2 separate regions of the Homo sapiens genome follow, and region 1 is linked to region 2. The links come from fine-mapping of genetic effects on gene expression. Tissue or cell type: whole blood. Region 2 holds a variant in brackets; the other region holds the start of a gene. All regions are shown on one strand. Distances are from middle to middle.

Evidence for each region. PIP is the estimated chance that this variant, and not a neighbour inherited with it, causes the effect.
Region 1: SPECC1L starts here. The variant in region 2 is fine-mapped to the expression of SPECC1L in whole blood (TOPMed, PIP above 0.99).

What each region holds. Positions count from the first base shown.
Region 1 is chr22:24,269,747-24,272,430 of GRCh38, forward strand. It overlaps SPECC1L (sperm antigen with calponin homology and coiled-coil domains 1 like), which reads left to right and starts at 1,085. Exons shown (of 17, transcript NM_015330.6): 1 at 1,085-1,237. SPECC1L-ADORA2A (SPECC1L-ADORA2A readthrough (NMD candidate)) reads left to right here and starts at 1,071. Exons shown (of 20, transcript NR_103546.1): 1 at 1,071-1,237. It also overlaps the pseudogene RPS10P29. RefSeq lists a silencer at 874-1,403 and an enhancer at 1,464-1,543.
Region 2 is chr22:24,374,800-24,377,483 of GRCh38, forward strand. The region is part of intron 14 of SPECC1L (sperm antigen with calponin homology and coiled-coil domains 1 like); the gene reads left to right. All of the region lies in intron 15 of SPECC1L-ADORA2A (SPECC1L-ADORA2A readthrough (NMD candidate)), which reads left to right. Among named protein-coding and RNA genes, the nearest start is that of ADORA2A, 51 kb to the right of the region's middle. The variant A/C (reference allele first, on the strand shown) is at 1,188.

The sequences.
Region 1 (2,684 bases), 110 kb before region 2:
GTCGCCCAGGCTGGAGTGCAGGGGCGCGATCTCGGCTCACTGCAACCTCCGCCCCCTGGGTTCAAGCAATTCTCCTGCCTTGGCCTCCCGACTAGCTGGGATTACAGGTGTCTGCCACCGCGCCTGGCTAATATTTTTGTATTTTTAGTAGACACGGGTTTCACCATCTTGGCCAGGCTGGTCTTGAACTCCTGACCTCGTGATCCGCCCGCCTCGGCCTCCCAAAGTGCTGGGATTACAGGCCTAAGCCACCGCGCCCGGCCGGGCACATTCTTGTCTGCCAACTCCAGGTGCTTAGGCATGTGGACATCCTTCTTGACCACCGTGACTTCCTCTTTAAAAAGGAGTTCATAAATGGCAATCCGGTTTTTCTTAGGCATCAGCATTCTGGGGAGGAGCAGCCGCTAAGGTGGCAGGGTGGCCCGGATGGGGGCCGATGGAACTCGAACTCCCCCAGAATTTCTTTAATATTTTATATATATATATATATATATATACATATATATATGTATATATATACACATATATATACATATATATATACGTATATATATATGTATATATATACATATATATATACGTATATATATATACGTATATATATATGTATATACATATATATATACATATATGTTGCTCGCTTATTCTTTTTGTCTGTTCCCTTATGTACCGGGAGTGCCAGGAGGACAGGGCTTTGTGTTTTCCTCACTGCTGTCTGGCTCATGCATAGCACAGTCCTTGGCACACGGTAAACACGCTGAGGAGAACTTTTGGGACTAGCGGACTCTGAGCATCATTCCGCTGGGCCCAGTGGGGCCTCTGAAGGGACCCGCCTTGCCCGGCTCCAGCCCAAGACCTGAGGCATGCGCACCGGCTGGCCGGCTACTTTCTTGACCGGCCAAGTGGCAGAGCGGCTGCGCGACCCAGTGCCGAGACGGACGCGAGCCGGAGATGGGGGAAGGGGAGGGGGTGGTGGTGGGGGACGGCGGCGCCTGCGCAGTGAAGGAATGTAGGCGGGGCCTCCACGACGCCTGCGCAGACGGCCGCAGCCCTGCTGGGCGCGAAGGGGCTGGCCAAGGGCGGGGCCCGCGAGGGAGGCCGGGCGGCCCGGCAAGCGGCGCTGCGGGGTAGGCTGCTTTCCTGAGGCCGGACTCAACGGGTCTCGGCTGAGCCACCGGGTGAGCTCACCGCCCAGCCCAAACCAGGAGATTGCGAGGGAGCGATGCGGTGCAGCGCGGTAAGAGCAGCAGCCGGGTTCCCGCAGTGTTCGCTGGCGGGTTGGTTTATCGCCTCAGCGCCGCCCGCGCTGCCGCGCCCGGGCGTCCCCGCAGACCCCGGCAGGCCCAGCGCCTGCGCCGTCTCTGCTCCTGGGCCCCTCCAGTGTGTCCCGCGCCTGCGCCTTTCCCTTCCCGCGCCGTCCTCGTTCTGGGCTTCGGGGCTTCTGGAACAACCCGCAGGCTTCGCCGCCGAGACCCACTGGCCTTCGTCCGTTGGTGTTGGGGTTCAGCTGGTTCTGGGACCCCGCTTGCGGCTTGACTGTGTGCAGACAGGCCGGGTGCGACCCTCGTGCTTGCCTTTCCGCCGCTCCGGGAGAGGCTGGGGCTGCCGCCCCATCGCCCGGGTCCCTTGCCTGGGGCGGGGACAGCGTTGTTCAGTGGCCCCGAGGGCGCAGAGCGGAGGAGCAGGGGCCACAGGCGGCGGACCCCGGGCCTGCTGCCGGTGCTGCTTCTGCTGTGGCCGGCGCCCGAGGCGGACGGAACGTCCTTTTTTCTTGAGACGTGGTTAATTGCATCAGGTTGGATGTGAATAATCCGGTACCTGTCTGAGGAAATTTTGCGTTTCCAGGAATTTGGTAATTGTATTACCTTAAGTAGTTAAGTCTAAGACATCATAGTCGCGGCACGTTGGGCAAGCTGCCCTGGAGATGACGAAAAGAAATCAGTTTCCAGTAGTTTTAGCCCATTTACAGAACACGCAAAAATTCTGTGATCATTCAAATGCGGGGAACCTTGATTTGTTGATATCCTTGATCATTTGTCCAAGTACCAGAAGGGCGAGGAAAAGATTCCCGTGAACAGCCCAGGTGATTTCAGGGAACAGTGTTTTCTTTTGTCAAAAGAGCCTCTTAAGCCATGATAATATTTCCCAAGCTTATAACAGATACAAGCCTTTAAAAAATGGCATTTGCTGTCACCCAGTAGGACACATCTTGAGATGAAATCAGAGCTGTAGGCTTTGTAGACAACAGCAGTCATTTCTGGTGGCTTCAGGGAGTGGAGGGGGACTGCAATTTTGCCAATGTAGGTGATACCAAAGGGACTATAGTAATTTTTTCTTCGTAATTAAAAACCAGGCCAGGCGCGGTGCCTCATGCCTGTAATCCCAGCACTTTGGGAGGCCGGGGCGGGCGGATCACCTGAAGTCAGGAGTTCAAGACCAGCCTGACCAACATGGTGAAATCCTGTCTCTACTAAAAATACAAAAAGCGCGCGCCTGTAATCCCAGCTACTCAGGAGGGTGAGGCAGGAGAATCGCTTGAACCCGGGAGGCGGAGGTTGCAGTGAGCCGAGTTCGCGCCACTGTACCCCAGCCTGGGCTACAGAGCGAGGCTCCGTCTCAAAAAAACAAAAACCAGATATAACAAGGCCGAGCTCCCTGGCTCACGCCTGTAATCACAGTAGTTT
Region 2 (2,684 bases):
GATAAGCTAAACCCAAAATAAGCAGAAGGAAGGAAATAAAGATTAGAGCCAAAATAAATAAAATAGAAAATAGAAAAACAATAGAGAAGATCAATGAAAAAAAAATGGGTTCTTTGAAAAGATAAACAAATTGACAAACCTCTAAGTAGATAGATAAAAAGAAAACGAAGACTAAAGTTACCAAAATCAGGAATAAAGGGACGTTACTAATGACCTTAAGAAATAAAAAGGATTAAAATGGAATACTGTGAACAATGAATGCCAAAAATTGGATAACTTAGATGATATGGACAAATTCCTAGAAACATTAACTATCAAAATGGACTCAAGAAGCAAGAACATCTGGAGAGACAAATAACAACTAATGAGATTGAGTTAGTAATCAAAATACTTCCAGCAAAGAGAAGCCCAGGACCAGATTACTTTACTGGTTAATTCTTCCAAATTTTAAAAGAGGAATTAATAGCAATACTTCTCAAACTCTTCCAAAAATCAAAGAAAATATTACTTCCTAACTCATTCTGTGAGGCCATCATTACTCTCATACCAAAAACGGAAAAAGATATTACAAAAAAAGAAAACTGTAAAAGCCCTTGACAAAATAATGACAATATCCAGCAGTATATTAAAGAGGATTATACACCCTGACCAAGTGTTCTTTATCCCAGCAATGCAAGGTTGGTTCAACATATGAAAATGAATTAATACTGTAATACCATATTATTAGAATAAAGGGGAAAAAACCGCATGATCATCTCACTAGACACTGTAAAAGCATTTGGTAAAATCCAGCAGCCATTTATGATTTTAAAAACTAGGAATAAAAGGTAATTTTCTCAATCTAATAAAGGGTACCTATGAAAACCCACAGTTGGCTGGGCACAGTGGCTTATGCCTGTAATCCCAGTACTTTGGGAGGCCAAGGCGGGTGATCAGTTGAGGCCAGGAGTTCAAGACCAGCCTAGGCAACATGCAAAACTCCATCTTTACTAATACAAAAACTAGCCAGGTGTAGTGGCACACACCTGTAATGCCAGCTACTTGGGAGGCTGAGACATGAGAATGACTTGAACCTGCGAGGTGGAGGTTGCAGTGAGCTGATAACACACCACTGCACTCCAGCCTGGGTGACAGAGTGAGACTCTGTCTCAAAACAAACAAACAAACAAACAAAAAAAACAAAAAAA[A/C]CCCACAGTTTTAACATTATACTTAATGGTGAAGACTGAAAGCTTTCCCCTTAAGATCAGGAACAAGAAAGAATGTCGTTTATCACCATTTCTATTCAACATTTTTCTGCAAGTTCTAGCTAAGACAGACAAGAAAAAAGGAAAGAAAAGGCATCCAGATAGGAAAAAAAGTAAAATGATCTCTATTTGCAGATGATGTGATTTATGTCTAGATTTTTTTAAGAGATAGGGTCTCACTATGTTGCCCAGTCTAGGTTCAGACTTCTGGGCTCAAGTGGTCCTCCCACTTCCAACATCGTGAGTAGCTGGGACTACAGGTGTAGGCCATCACATCCAGCTTATATCTAGAAAACCTTTAAGAATTCACATAAAAACTGTTGGAACTAGTAAATCCAGAAAAGTTGAAGATGCAAGATCAGTATACAAAACTCACTTGCATTTACATATAGTAACAGTAAATTAAAACATTCCATTTATAGCAGCATCAAAAAGAATAAACTATTTAGGAATAAATTTAACCAAGGAGGCACAAGTCTAATACACTGAAAAATACAAAACATTGCTGAAAGAAATTAAAATCTAAATAAATGGAAAGACATACCTTGTTCATGGATTAGAAGTTCTGATACATGCTGCAACTTGGATGAACTTTGAATATTTTATGCTAAGGGAAAGAAGCCGAACATAAAACTTCAACCTAAAAAGACTTCCACACTCAGGCCTGAAAAGTCTCAAGTTTTGTTGAACGGCAGGAACGTGAATACTGGCAGTTTCAAGTTGGTTGTAGAACTGAAACCTCAAGCATAAGTGAAAATTACACAATCACCTAGTTTTTTTTTTTTCTTAAGAAAGAACTTTTTTTATTGAGATATGCCACACAAGATACAATTCAGCCACTTAAAATGTACATTTCAGTGGGTTTTTGTTTTTTTTTTAAGTGTATTCAGAGTTGTATAACCATTACCACAACCAGTTTTAGGCTATTTTTACCACTCCATAAAGAAATCCTATACCCATTAGCATTCATTCTCTATTTACTATAGGCAACCACTAATCTACTTTCTGTCCTATAGATTTCTTTATTATGGACATTTCCTATAAATGGAATCACACAATATGTGGTCCTCTGTGACTGGCTTCTTTCACTTAGCATCATGTTTTTAAGGTTCATCCATGCTGTAGCATATACTAGTACCTCATTCCTTTTTATGGCCAAACAATATTCCATTGTATGGATATGCCACATATTTATCCATTCTTCTGTTCAAGATGGTGTTTGTGTTGCTTACACTTTTGGGGGGGTTATTATAAATGTCACTGTTAAGAACTTTTTTTTTTCGACATGAGGTCTCACTATGTTTCCCAGGCTGGTCTCAAGTGATCTTCCCACCTCAGCCTCCCAAGTAGCTGGATCTACAGGCACATCCCACCATGCCTGGTTTGTTGTAGACATTTGTGTACAACAAATTTTTACATGGACGTATGTAGTTTTCTCAT